Regions from separate parts of the Homo sapiens genome. Here regions 2 and 3 are each reported to be linked to region 1. Evidence: microRNA targets listed by miRTarBase, many of them from high-throughput screens and not tested one by one. Region 1 holds a microRNA gene; each other region holds the end of a gene's coding sequence.

Region 1 (5,178 bases):
CATATATGTTTGTTTGACCTGTAAGGTCCATATGAATAAGAAGATAGTCGTAACTAGTCTAAGAGTTTTAAGTAAATGTGTGAGCAATCAAGAATAAAACAAAAACTCTAAAAACTGACTCTAAAGTATACTCTAATGGGATCTAATTGTTTAGATCTCATATATTGTGTATTTTTGAATGCCTTGTCTTGCCTCCATTAAAAAGGCAAACAGATAATAAAACTTCATTTAACAGAATTGAGGTTCACTAAGCTTTGTGAGATACTGTTGGTTTCTCTGGATATTTGCAAGGAAATTATTCTGAATCACAGACTTAAAATTTGCCAGAGGATTAATGGCTGAGTTTCTGAATGTACAGTGATCATTAGTGTACTTTTTTGAATTTGAGGTATTTCTTACTGAGTAGCGAATCACCATATATATTTATTGTCAGTATTGCTTTACATTTTACTTACAAAATTTGTTCCTTCACTTCTAACCAAGGAAACTATGACATAGAAACTTTGCAAATAGGTTTGGTTTTGAGGTCATATATATGGAAAGAACTATATTTAATTTTATAAGGTGTCACTATTTAAAATATTTTTTATTCTGACTACTAACAAGTGTGAACACGAGGTGTTCTATATATAAAACTTCTACTATCTATGAAGCTATTTAGGAGATATGAATACCACTAAGGATGTATGTTTTAAAAGACAAAACTTTCTTCTTCCTAGATATTTCTTAATTTAGAAAGCCCATACCAGAATTATCTTTAGAATAAACAAGAAGCAATAAATTTGGACTAAATTACATCAATTTCCTTTACTATAGAATTATGCCACAAAACTTTGATAATAACTTTTAATTTGAATCACATATTATAATTAATTAGTTGCTTGTCATAGATAAATGCATAAAACTAAAGCTGAATTAAATTACGTTTTCAGAGAATGTAGAGTAATGCTCTGTTGGCTTCTATTTTGTTGAGTGAAGCTATACAATAAGCTGGTCCTTATTTTTTAAAGTATAGGAAAAGATATTCAGAATGAAAATTTTAAGGATTTCTTACCTACCTTTCCCTTAAAATGAAACTGACAAATGGTAGGCAGTACTTGGCTATTGACTGGTGTACAAAAAAAGAAACATCTCAAAACATAAATGAATAAGTATACAATTTTTATTCTTTAGAAAGACATATAGAGCTATATTTCCCTTAGAAAAATATTAGATGTCACCACTAATTCACTTTTATTGTATCCCAAATTATCAGAAAGTCAAATGAGATATTTCAATCAAATACATGGCAATGACTGTATTTCACACAACCATGTTTACATTTTGAATTTGGTGAGTGAAATTCATGATTGTTTAGCTCCTATTACACATCATCCAAAATCTTCATCACAGTTCAGATCTGATAAAATATGATAATTGAGGATGCTAAGTTAGAAGTTAGATAATATCTATTCCTGAGTCTGATTCTGATCAAAGTGTGGTAGCAAAGCTTTGATATGCATCCTGAGTACAAAACACTGTCAAAATAAGTTTCTAAGGCAGATTAGATGTTGCTATGAACACCAATATAAAATCCATAATGCTTTAAAACATTATAACAGTACACTGTATATTGTTTTTCATTTCATGCTGCTTAAACACTGGACTCATTTTCTGAGTCAATCTTCTTTACTGTTTTATAAGCCTTTGGCAGATACTATTTTTCTCCATGCTACTTACAAGCTGAATTCCTTGCTTGCCTTTGAGAGTCTTTAATTTTTTCTTTGTTTTTCCTCAGATTTGTTTATTAAGAAAAATTATATTGAATAGATATATTTGAGCTTATGTGATAAAGTGTCTTACATATCTCGGTTATAAATAAGTCAACATATAGAATAATATATGGATATATATTAATCTATGTCTAGAGTAATAGGGTACATAATTAGGCATTTCTTCTATATAGCAATGGTCCCCCAACCTTTTTGACACCAGGGAACAGTTCTATGGAAGACAATTTTTCCACGGACCATGGGGGTTGTGGGAGATGGTTTTCGGATGACTCAAGTGCATTACATTTATTGTGCACTTTATTTCTATTATTATTACATTGTAATATATAATGAAATAATTATACAACTCACCATAATGTAGAATCAGTGGGAGCCCTGCGCTTGTTTTCCTGCAACTAGACGGTCCCATGTGGGGGTGACTGGAGACAGTGATAGATCATCAGGCATAAAGAGCATGCAGCCTAGATCCCTGGCATGCACAGTTCACAATAGAATTCATGCGCCTATGAGAATCTGATGTCACTGCTGCTCTGATGAAAGCTACAGCTCAGGTGCTAATGCAAGTGATGGGGAGTGGCCATAAATATAAATGAAGTTTTGCTTGCTTACCTGACACTCACCTCCCGCTGTGTGGCTCAGTTCCTAAGAGGCTATGGACTGGTATATTGTATATATTGTATATTGTATATAAGGATATACTTTTAAATATTTTGCCTAGTTCATCTTTCTCATCACACTCCCTAACAAAGTATACTTTAAATCTCTTACGCAAAATTCATCTTATCACTTTGTTCTTACCAAATTGATAATTATTTATGCATGTTAGTAATTCTAAATCTCAGCGATCCCTGTTGTTCCATAACAGTACCACTGCTGGAAACTTTAGCTTATAGTATTGGGTCAAAAGGAGAATGCTGGGTGCTTCAAAATAAAAGAGAAGTTTGCAGTGATTGTCATTTTATAGCCAAGATGAGACTTAAAGACTTCCTCAAAGTAGATACTCAATAAGCATACTTTATTTTTATTACTGCACTCACATTAGGTTTTATAATACTGTGATATTTACAATGTATATTTCCAAAAATAATTTTATGTGTTTTATTTCATATACTTCTGAGAATTTCTCTGAAATATAGAGGCAGATATTATTAGGTTGGTGCAAAGGTAATTGTGGTTTCTGCTTTTAAAGGTAATGGCAAATATTACATTTACTTTTGCACCAACCTAATACATATTCTTCTTAGATTTTCTTAGTCCCTTATTCATCCTCCTTTAGTATAGAGCCAAATCATAGCCATAGACATATCCTTATCACTTAATCACATGATCAGTTAGATTGTAATGAAAAACTCAAGTAAATAAATGTAATTGAGTACACTAACTCATAGAAAGAAATGTTTTGATTAAGGTCACACTATTTTTTAAGAACTAAAAAAGCCAGACGTTGATTCCAGAAGTACAGACACCAGCTTTCTCTCTCCTTTAGAATACATTTCTGAGAAAAGTTATTTATCTACCTGAAAAGAAAAAAAAAAAGATTCAGTGCCTGGCATCTAGATAAAAATATATATCTCGTGTCAAAATTCAAGCAAAGTAAAATAATGTGTTGTCAGCCTAAAAAGTCCAAAACAGAATGCTTTTGGTGCTGTTGTATTAACTCTTGCTGAATTAAGAGTACCTTACCAAAGCAATATCTACTTGTTCAGGGATTTCTTTTCAGTTGATCAGTCACCCCCAGACTGGTGGATCACACATTTGTCTTTAACTGTAAAACATCATAGGGCAGGGTTTCACTCTTTAGCAATTGAATCTCCGCAGCTGTATTTACATATCAATTATGGTCAGTCCTGCTGCTTCTCAGTACACATCCTGTGATTGTTAAATTGATTAGAAAGTTAAGACACTAAAGAAACACTCTTTACATTGCTTCTTGAAGACAAAGCTGTCACTGTGACATTAGGAGGATGTACTATCCTATAACTTGTCTATTTTCTTCTCAACCTTATTGTGACTTATTCACAGAAAATAAAGTTATTTATCCTTTTCTTGGTCGAATTCCACCCTTAACTATATTGGTTGAAACATGAAATTACATTTTTATGGGTAAAAAGGATGGTTCAGTCTAATATACTTGCCTAGTGCTTGTGGATGCCATACTAAGAACAATTTCATATGCATTATTCTGTAATAGTTACTAGTAGTGATTCTAATATTAGACTGCCTGGGTTCAAATTCCCCTGCTTACCCAATGTGTGACTGAACAAATTGCTATATAGATGTCTGTGTATCTGTTCCTTCAATTTTAAAATGAGAAAAATAATGGCTCTTACTTCATTGGATTATTTTAGAAATCAAATGAGTTAACATTTTGTAAAGTGCTTGGAACAGTGTCTGGACTAAAAGTATTTGTTAAATTTAAAATATATGTTTGTGTGTCTATTACATATAAATATATACATATATAGTTACATATACTTATATATTGTATATACTATATATAATATATAATTATACCATATTATATAATTACCTATAAAATTACAGTATAAAATAACATACATATACTTTACTTCTGGAAGTATTACAGTATATATTTCAAAAAACTATCATGCATTTCATTGTATACACTTTTAAAAATTTCTCTGACATATAGAGGCAAATATTTTATAGATATAAAAATTTATTGTTTGACTAGGAATTATTGATCTACTCACTCATCAAATTTATATTATAACTTTACATTCTGGGTGCTATGTTTCCTGAAATGTTTTCACAGACTGGTGGAATAGTTAAGACATAGTTTTTTTAAAAAAATTACAATAATTTGATGAAGAATATGGGGGGAAAAGCACTGACAAAAAGTGTTCAGGGTGGCAATTCAGAAAAGAAGTGGATGTTTTGTTTGTTTTTACAATAACAAGCACTGAAATTCACAAACTTCAAATTATCACACAATTGTGAGAATATCTATATTTAGCACAGTCTAAATGGTTATCAAAGTAATGTGAAAATTTAAGAAAAATTGGACTTCCTAGTAAAGGCTATCTTTGTAAAGCATATCTCTATATGAGAGTTGGGTCAAATATTTGGAGAAATAATCTGGTGACATTCGAATTGTACTACTACAGTCCTGGTTTTCTATTCTGCTTTCTGAAAAGAAAATAATAAATTTACGATCTACTGGGAAAAAAAAAAAAGAAGAAGGAAGAGAGCTCCACAGCAGCAGCTTATGACATTGTTTAAAAGCAGGGTTTCTGGAGCTTGACTCCCAGGGTTCAAGAGCTAGTTTTGCCACTCTCAAGCTGTGTGAGTTTAAGCAAGGAACTTTATTTCTCTGTGTACTCATTTGTCCAAATGTTGAATGATAATAATAATAATGGGGTTCTTTTTCTTTGTAAAACATTTA
Region 2 (5,000 bases), not on the chromosome of region 1:
AAAGAATATAGGTATTTACTTTGTGGTTATCCTGGGACTTACATGAGACATCTTATACTTGTAATAATCTATTTTAAGCTGATAACAACTTACTCAATCATATACAAAAACCACTTTTACAACTCTACTTTTAAATTATTGATGTAGGGCCAGGTGCAGTGGCTCATGCCTGTAACCCCAGCACTTTTGGAGGCCAAGGTGGGAGGATGGCTTGAGCTCAGGAGTTCAAAACCAGCCTGGACAACATAGCAAGATCTCTCATCTTAAAAAAATTATTTTTAAAATTTTTATTTCAATGGTTTTTGGGGTACAGGTGGTTTTTGGTTACCTGGATAAGTTCTTCAGTGGTGATTTCTGAGATTTTAGTGTACCCATCACCCAAGCAGTCTATGTTATAATCAACATGTAGTGTTTTATTCCTCACCCCCTCCAAACCTCCCTGGCTAAGTCCTCAAAGTCCATTATATCATTCTTTTTTTTTTTTTTTACCCTGAGATGGAGTCTTGTTTTGTTGCCTAGGCTGGAGTGCAGTGGTGCAATCTTGGCTCACTGCAACCTCCACCTCCTGGGTGATTCTTGTGCCTCACCCTCCCTAGTAGGTGGGACTACAAGCACATGCCGCCACATCCAGCTAATTTTTGTATTTTTTTTTTTTTGTAGAGACAGGGTTTCACCATGTTGGCCAGGCTGGTCTCGAACTCCTGGCCTCAAGTGATCCACCCACCTTGACATCCCAAAGTGCTGGGGTTACAGGTGTGAGCCACTGTGCCTGGCCTGCTAAAGTCCATTATATCATTCTTATGCCTTTGAGCCCTCATAGCTTAGCTCCCACTTGTGAGAGGTACAATATTTGGTTTTCCATTTCTGAGTTACTTTACTTAGAATAATGGCCTCTGGCTCCATCCAAGTTGCTGCAAAAGACATTATTTCATTCCTTTTTATGGCTGAAGAGTAGTACTCCACGATGAATATACCACATTTTCTTTATCCACTCATTGGTTGATGGTCACTTAGGTTGGTTCTATATCTTTGCAATTGTGAATTGTGCTGCTATAAACGTGTGTGCATGTGTCTTTTTCATATAATGACTTATTTTCCTTTGGGTATATACCCTGTAGTGGGATTGCTGGATCAGATGGTGTTCTACTTTTTGTTCTTTAAGGAATCTCCGCACTGTTTCCCATAGTGGTTGTACTAATTTACATTCCCACCAGCAGTGTAGAAGTGTTCCCTTTTCACCACATTCACACCAACATCTATTGTTTTTTTGACTTTTTAATTATGATCGTTCTTGCAGGAGTAAGGTGATATCTCATTGCGGTCTTAACATCTCCCTGATGATTAGCGATGTTGAGCATTTTTTCATGTTCGTTGGCTGCTTGTATATCTTCTTTTGAGAATTGTCTATTTATGTTCTTTGCCACTTTGTAATGGGATTATTTTTTTCTTGCTCATTTGAGTTCCTTATAGATTCTGGATATTATTCCTTTGTCGGATGCATAGTTTGCAAATTTCTCCCACTCTGTGGGTTGTCTGCTTACTCTGCTGTTTGTTTTGCTGTGCAAAAGCTAAAAAAAAAATTATTGATGTCACAAATTACACCTTTACATAGTGCGTACCCATTAAGATATTTTAACATATTTTTATAGTTACAGTGTTTGTTTTGATTTTTAGAGATGGGGCTTCACTTTTTTGCCCAGGCTGGTCTTAAACTCCTGGCTTCAAGAAATCTTCCCCAAGTGCTGGGATGACATGTGTGGGTCACCGTGCCTGGCCAGTTACAGTTATTTTTATGCTTTGTCTTGTCAATTCTGGACCAGAATTAAAAGTGCACTACCATTATAGTCCTGAAGGATTCTGCATTTGTCTATATTTAGTTTGCCAGTGAGCCTCATATTTTCTTTTTCTTTTTGGGACAGAGTCTCGCTCTGTTGCCCAGGTTGGAGTGCAGTGGCATGATCTTGGCTCACTGCAACCGCCGCCTTCTGGGTTTGAGCAATTCTCCTGCCTCAGCCTCCCGCATAGCTGGGATTACAAGTGTGTGCCACCATGTCTGGCTAATTTGTTTTTTTGTATTTTTAGTAGAGATGGGGTTTCACCATATTGGTCAGGCTGGTCGCGAACTCCTGACCTCAGGTGATCCTCCCACCTCAGCCTCCCAAAGTGCTGGGGTTATAGGTGTAAGGCACTACACTCGGCCACTCCCAATCTTTGCATACTGGCTTTGTACAGGGCAGACCTTCACCAGCTAGCCCAGGTAGAGATTCTGAAACCTCTTAAATGTTTTTCCAAGTTCAACTTTTTAGGATTGTGTTATTTCCCAACTGAAGGTTGCTGGTTTTTCATCTTGTAATCTCTTGCTCCCTCTGGTGTCTGTCTTCAGAATTGCACGTTCCCTAGTGCTGCAGCTGCAAGTCGCCCCTTTGTTCTCAGTGGCTCTCTGGCAAAGCATGACAGCTTCCTATAAGCACCCCAAGTTAGATGAGATGGGCAACAGTCCCTTGGGCAGCACTACAAAAAGCTGCAATGCTGGCGTGTAAGTTCCATTCCTCCTGGGAGAGAAAATGCAAGTTGGGTGATTTCTCTTGGTGGTGTCCAGCCACACTGGCCTGTCTGTGGTACTACAGGCTCTGGTGGCACGGCAAACGATCCTCCAACTCTCCCGTGCTTTTAGCAGACTCCAGACATCCAAAGGATGCCAGTTCTGTCAGTATTCCAAGTCAGACAAGACGAAAGAGTCAGAATCTTGGTCACATGCTCCAACGTTCTCTACCTCTCTCCCCCTCACCGAGTCTGCCCCCTTCAACCCAGGGAAAAGCCAGGAGCTGGCGTACTCGCCATCATGCTGGGCTGTCATCCTGGGTGGAGTAAAGTGAAATGACTCTTCTTACTCATTTCAACGTGGCTGTTCTTAATTTTGCACTCACCTGGGGATACTGCAACTTAACTGGTTTCTGGTATCCTGGTCTATAAATTAAACTGGTGTCTCTGTGGGGTAATGAGGACTGGTACTTCCTATTTTGCCATCTTGCTGATGTCAACCCCCATTTCATATTTTAACCAAAAGGGAAACAGAAATAGGCCACAGAATCCAGCATGATTTACATATCAAAAGGAAACCTTTCCGGAGTGCTGGGAAGTAGTTGTATCCTTAAATATTACAAGCCCTTGTGTTACAGATGAGAGAGCCAAGGCACAGAGGTAACACAGTGAAATCGTACATCCCAAAGACTAGGGGTGAACAGTGACTAGTATGCAGCAGGCACTCGAAAATGATAACTATTTTTATTATTTCTTTTATAGTAAAATTATTCTAAAATGGGGAAACTATCCTGGATTATTGGGGTGGGCCCAATGCAATCACAGGGTCCTTTTATAACTGAGAGATTTGAAGATGCTAAGCTGCTGGCTTTGAAGATAGAAGGGCCCATGAGCCAAATAATATGGCAGCCTCTAGAAGCTGGAAACAGCAGAACACAAATTCTCCCTAAGGCCTTCCTCAGGAGCAGTGCCCTGCGATCACCCTGATTTTAGTCTCGTCAGACCCACTGTTGGATTTCTGACTCCTAGAACTCAGAAGTCAGAATTTAAAAGCAAATTTGTGGCTGGGCATAGTGGTGTAATGCCTGTAATCTCAGCACTTTGGGAGGACATGGCAGGAGGATTGCCTGAGCCCAGGAGTTTGAGACCAGCCTGGGCAACATGGCAAGACCTCGTCTCATTTTACTTAAAATACAGAATGAAAATTAATTAATTAGTTAATGAAAAAATTAAACTGGTGTGTTTTAAGTCACTAAGTTTGTGGTGATTTATTAGAGACAAACTAGGAAGCTAATAGAGAGTCTGAAATTAAAAAAAATACATTTAAGACAAAATTACTTAGGAAATAAAATTTTATTGTACAAAATTTACATTTGGTGCATATGATGAAAAGCATGGCAAAGAGACCCTTAATCTTTTTTCTTTGATATTTACTGTGAAAGTAATTTCCTAATACCAGATCATACAATTTTTTTGTATAGAATGTTTAACAGCTGTGTTGGTAGTAAGTGTTTTGGGTATAAGGTATAAAACAGAAATTAGATCAGAAAAGTGCAGGGGGAAGACCACTGCCAAAGAGTAATCTCCAAGAACTTGGTATTTTCCACCGTGAGGCAGATACTGTGGGGTCATCGCTCTGTAATTGAAGAACAAAATATTTTAATCTTTAAACTTTACCATCAAATCTCCTTTTAAAGTGAATTATAAAACTCTCCTTTTGTGTTCCTTTTGGTTGGCACTTTTATAGCCAGGTTTTATTGTTAAGGAAAAATAAAGTTTCTTTGTCTTCATGTCAACTGAAGATAAATTTCTTTAAGTTCCAAATTATAAAGATATGCCAGAAAGGCTGTAGATGAAGTTTATTAGGGAAAATCACATTCAAAAAGAATAGGGATTAAAAAAAAAATCAGCATTATGTGATTTGTATCAATTTGTTCTTGGCAAAAGCATGAATTAAAAAGCTAGTTACCCATCTTAGAAAGCAGCCTTATGCTCAGTGTTCTGTTATGCCTAAAGGCTAACTCACTTCCCTGGGTGTAATGCTCTCATTTCATAATAGAGAAAAATATCAACTGTAATACATATTCAATAGCTACAGTATTGCTCACATAGCAATACTTTTTACTTCCCTAAAAAAATTCCTGAATTCCACAGAAGGCTTGTTTATTATTGCAAGACTATGTCTGGCATAATTAATCTAACATGAATAGTAAGTACAATGAAGAACTAAGGATTTTCCTTTTTGGAAAGTCAGCTTTAATGAAAAAACTGTAAATAATAGGTTGGTTAACTGTCCTCTAATTTTCAAAAGTTCAGCTTAAACTAAATTTTATGTAAAGATATGTCTATATTTAATACAAACGTTCACTTACTTGGTCTACTTAGGTAGTATATAAAGTGCGAGTTAATGAATACAACCAGACAAAGAAGAGGCTTAAGCTATAATAGAACTTACAAGT
Region 3 (5,000 bases), not on the chromosome of region 1:
AATAATTCTTCCCCAGCCACACCCTCCAGTCCAGAGGCCACATTGAAGGATGGCTCTGGTATAGGGCTGTCAGAGGGCCGTGCAGCTTAGCCCTGCCCTGCCCTGCCCTCCTCTGCTCGGCTCTGCCCGCCCCTCAGTCATGTTTTTGGTACCCACAGGTGTGACGAGTACATTACACAGCTGGATGAGATGCAGCGGCAGCTGGCGGCTGCTGAGGACGAGAAGAAGACGCTGAACTCGCTGCTGCGCATGGCCATCCAGCAGAAGCTGGCGCTGACCCAGCGGCTGGAGCTGCTCGAGCTGGACCATGAGCAGACCCGGCGTGGCCGTGCCAAAGCCGCCCCGAAGACCAAGCCAGCCACACCGAGCGTAAGTCACACCTGTGCCTGTGCCAGCGACAGGGCCGAGGGCACCGGGCTGGCCAACCAGGTGTTCTGCAGCGAGAAGCACAGCATTTACTGTGATTAGGGGCTGTGGGGCGCCGCACGCTGCAGCTAACATCTGCTTCACCTCAACTAACCCAGCAGCAGCGGGACGGCGGTGCTAGGTCAATCTTAACGTGACTAATGCACAGAGGGTAGGAGTCTAGCCGAGGCGCCATGGGGCGTTGCATCAGCAGGACACTTGTGAGAGCTTTGTGTCGCTTCTCACTCCTCAAAGCCCCCTCAGGAGCACCCAGTCCTCAGCTGCTCTCTTAGGTGGGGGTCAGAGGTGGGGATAGAGCTGCACATTCTTGCAGCAGATGTGTGATGAAAGCATCTTCTAAGCCCTGCGCACCCGTGGGGAAACCCAAGGGAGGAGTCCTGGTCCTGCTCCCTCAGCACCCAAAAGGGGCAGAACCTGAGTTGAGACTTGCATGTTCCTCGCATGTGTCTAATGTCAGCACTAGAAAGCAGTTTTAGGAGGTTCCAGCCTGCAGCATAGGTACGACCTCAGAGGATGGCTTTGCACTTGGCATAGTTTCATGGAAAGGAGTACGTTGTAGTTTATGCAGTATCTGACTGCAAATCATATTCAGGAAAGAAGTGCAGAATTTCTTCCCCAAGCCCAGAGAAGAGCAGCCCTGAGCCCCTGTATTCTGCTGGCCAGACACACATGGCACAGACACAGCTGACCATAACCCAGGAATCCAGAGCTCGGTTTCTCATTTCTGAGATCAGGATGCTTGTATAGTGGCCTGTGAGGTGACAGATTGGCAGGGCCCAAGGCCCCAGGTTTTCATTTTTCATGAGAAAAGCTTTCCAAGTGCCTGGCCAGACCTTGGTCCTTAGTGCAGAGCCCGTCCTTTTGTACTTGGGGTGACCCCAGCAGCCAATTATCCGGCCTTCCATAGGGGGTTCAGTCCCAAAGACATGGGGCTTTGAAAACCCTAGCCTGAAGTCTGAGCCACCAAGGGCTTGGCTGGGTTGGACACCCACAGGTGTATCCAGAGCCCAGCCCGGTGCTGGGAAAGCTTTGCATAGGGCCAGGGCCACTTGTCAGGATTCACAGGTAGGAGATGTTTAGGTCTCTTTATTTAGTGCAATCTGGGGGATGGCAACAGAGAAAGAGGAAAGGTAGCTGTAGGGTTCTCCCATTTCCAGAGGCTCCATCCACACCTGCCTTCCCACATTCTGAGCAGAACTTTTCTCAGTACTTTTTTCCCGATCACCCTGTGGGACCAGCTGGACCTGAGGCTGCAGTCTTCTCTCCTGCAGGCTGCTTGCCTTGTCTCTCATGCGGAAGAGGCATTCGAGTTACCTGGTGAGAGACCGTGTTGCCCCCTCCCACAGCTCTCTGCCCTGCGCGTTCTTCCCTTTGGTGCCGAGTATGTTTCGGTCCCCTCCAGACTCCAGGACACGCCCATGTATGTCCCCTGCGTGTTCATCCTGGGCCCAGATCCCCCTGCCCCAGCAAGACTCGCAGTGGGATGGCTGCTGGCATGCCCACCCTGCATGCGCTTTGCCCTCTCCTTGCAAGCCTGGCACATAGCTTCTCTCCATACTCCTAAGGGACTTTGCAGACACCCAAGCCACTGGGACCCCTGCTAACACATGCAGGTCTTCTCTTCTGCCAACTAACGTGCTCGCGCCCTCCCAGCACGTGGAGAGCTTCAATTGTCAGATAAACAGGAAGCGACAGATGACCGCTTTCTAACGCTCTCTTTTCTCCCGTTTTCAGCTGTAGAGTAGCTGCCAGGAGGACTTGGCCACCCGGCCCTGTCACACTGCAGCCCCTTCCCCTTCCCTCTCGTGGCCCACAAGGAGGAAGGAAGGGCAACCTAAAAGCCCACTTAGAAACTTTTTGGATATGCCACTGCAATTCTTTTCAAAATAGCATTCCCCAGGTTTTTAATGGGAGGAAAAAAAGCTTTAATGTTGAGCATGCTGCGAGCTGCTGCGTGGAAAGGCCTCTGTATGGGCCGAAGACCCTTCTTCCCTGGCTGCCAGGCTCGCCAGGAGCCCACTGGAAACGCCCACCACGGGGGCTCCTTGTTACACATGTTCTTTTTTTATCCGATCAACCTGTGCACTTTTGATATTTTGATATTATATTTGCTTCCTTAATTCCTCGCGTAGAGACGGTCTCAGGTGCCGTGGTCTATGCTCGTGGTCCTGTAGCTGTCCGCCTCAGCTCCCACCGTGTTTGTCTGGTGTCAGCACGAGGCAGAGCTGTGTGCTCCATAGCGTGTAGCTTTAGACTCGGAGATGAGTGCTTTGACCCAGCGAGGAGCTCAGCTAAGTGTATCCACGCTGTGGTTCAGCAGCCTTTAGATCATACGGCATTGTGGTTCATGTTTGAAATTACAGATTTTAAATGCCATGTTCATTAAGAAATCCAGGGTATTCAGATTCTGGGGTTTTTCATATTGTATTATTATTATTCTTAGGAATAGTTCAATGTAACAAGAAGAAAACTTGACCTTTGCTCTGGTTAAAACAGTAATAGGCACTTGAAAAAAAAAGATAAATTATTGAATGAGTAGTATTACCTACAAATTCCAGAATTTTCTGGGTTTTAGGACGTTGTGAAGCATGACTGATTAACAGAATTTTATACAACTGTACCAATAAAATTCCAAATTGGAATTGTTTTGTTACTCTGGTTGTTGTGCCAAATTGTGGTACACTTAGAAAATTCTACAGTCGTCGATTTTTAGGGTGTTCTCTTTCAACACCTTTTTGTTAGTAATCATTGCCAGTAGTGCCTTCATCAGTTAAGGGAGGTGTCCCAGCACAGATCATTCTCAAAAGCGAGCAGGGAAGAGCTAGTGGGCATGCTGAAGGCCAGCGTGGACAGCAGGTGAGGCAGGTGCTCCTCACACCCAGACCTGGGCATCTTCATTGAGGGAAAGAAAACAGTCATTGTGCAAAATTCTGTTAGTCAGTGATTCTTTACTTGCAAATTCAGGGGCTTAGAAAATGAAAGCAAACACAAAACCTTGAGTGTGCTTTGGGAACCAAATGGACCTTCTGGGACAAGCTGAGCAAGCTGTATGAACGCCACGTTTGTGAAGAGCTGAGGGTATCAGGAGGGCCGACGCTGTGTTGGCATGCGCAGTAGGGGATGAGGGTTAGCCATAGTATTCTTTGCAAATGTGAAAGCGAGACATTATATCTTCTCTTGCTTGGTGTAACTAATCACTGTTAATTTCAGGAAACAGAACTCATTAAAACTCCTTAGCAAACCAGGTCTACATCCTGTTTTGTTTGCTGAGTGAGGTTAGTGGGAGTGGTCAAATTGGTACTCTTGGAGGAAGAAAAACTGTCCTTCCTTCTCCAAAAAAGGAAAAATTATAATAATATAAATGACAAAAATAAAAGAATTCTGTTTCCTGGAATAAGCATTTCTTATTCCTAGTTGTAGGGACTCCTATTTTTACCTTCCGTTACAGTGTTGATTCATAAGAAATATTGTTACATTTGAGATAACTTCATCTGTATGGGGTATTTATTTGCAATGATGTCTGAGTACTGTATTTTTTCTGTGCATTACCTTAGTGTCAGAATGTTGGTCTTTATTTTAAAGTCATATGCATGTTCTCCTGCCAAGGAACCTTTACACAGACCCAAACAAAAAAATAATAATCAAATGCCTTCAATTTCTGAGAAAATGAGGCAGAGCATGGAAAAGGAATAGGAAGGAGAAATTAATTGAGATTTTCAGGACACAGACATATGATGTGAATGCCTACAAAGCCAGTGCGCATAGGAACAGTGGGCCTGGGTAAAGAGTCACATTGGTAGGACCAATAAAGAATAATAAAAAGACAAAGCACATGTTTGTTCTCTGTGGTTGTTCTGACTCCGTGCTCCAGATAACTGTGGTTTAAGCAAGGCACAATAAATCCACTGCCTCAAACAACAACAGCAACAAGCCTATCAGGTAACCCTGGTAGTGGGAACTGGAAGCAGCCTGGGGTCCACCTTCAGGAGAATGGGGAGGGGTCATGTATATGTGGGGAGGCTGTCACTCCATCCCTGAAACAAGAATGTGTTCAAGGACCCAGAAGATGAGGGTAGGGAAAGGGTAGAGTTGGTGTCTGGGTGCTTGTGCCAATCAAATACACCACCAGGCAGAAGTGAGCCAGGCCACACTGGGCCACGCACATGAGTGGAGTGGAGGGCACAGACAATGCCCCCCCCTGGAAAGATGCCTGCCCCCCAGGGCCCTGACGCCTCATAACTCTGTCCTCAAGGGTCTTCTGAAGTGCAGCATCAGGTTTGAAGCCACAGCAGCATGTTGGTAAGAACACATTGTGTATACATAGACTAAAACTAGGAGTAGCCTATGCTATCCTGATGAGGAGGCAGGGATTCAGATGATGTAGAATCCTTTGCTGTCTAAACTCTCACTCTCTGAACCCAGGAATCACATTTGTCTGTAGGAATATGTACAAATATACAGTGGGCACGTTCATATGGTTGCTTGTGGGTGTGAGAAAAGGGGACAGTGTCTAGTCAAGGGGACAGTAAATACCAGGACACACTCCTGCCACCTCCTAGTCCGACAGCCTCAGT

What was found. Region 1 holds the annotated microRNA hsa-miR-548ag (AAAGGUAAUUGUGGUUUCUGC, at 2,933-2,953, shown strand). A microRNA usually pairs through its seed, bases 2 to 8, with sites in the 3' UTR of a target mRNA and lowers its output. Matches are read on the target gene's strand: a 7mer-m8 pairs with bases 2 to 8, a 7mer-A1 pairs with bases 2 to 7 and ends in A, and an 8mer does both.
Region 2: the mRNA of PSMG2 is a reported target of hsa-miR-548ag. Seed matches in the 3' UTR shown: 7mer-A1 at 4,062-4,068.
Region 3: the mRNA of BICD2 is a reported target of hsa-miR-548ag. Seed matches in the 3' UTR shown: 7mer-m8 at 3,859-3,865 and 8mer at 3,972-3,979.

Annotation. Positions count from the first base shown.
Region 1 is chr4:60,919,691-60,924,868 of GRCh38, forward strand. It overlaps MIR548AG1 (microRNA 548ag-1), which reads left to right and starts at 2,929; the gene lies at 2,929-2,994.
Region 2 is chr18:12,724,616-12,729,615 of GRCh38, reverse strand. It overlaps PSMG2 (proteasome assembly chaperone 2), which reads right to left. Exons shown (of 7, transcript NM_020232.5): 6 at 4,997-5,000; 7 at 3,876-4,177. The coding sequence ends at 4,085. Among named protein-coding and RNA genes, the nearest start is that of LINC01882, 22 kb to the left of the region's middle.
Region 3 is chr9:92,710,622-92,715,621 of GRCh38, reverse strand. BICD2 (BICD cargo adaptor 2) reads left to right here. Exons shown (of 7, transcript NM_001003800.2): 7 at 159-4,259. The coding sequence ends at 468. Among named protein-coding and RNA genes, the nearest start is that of IPPK, 43 kb to the right of the region's middle.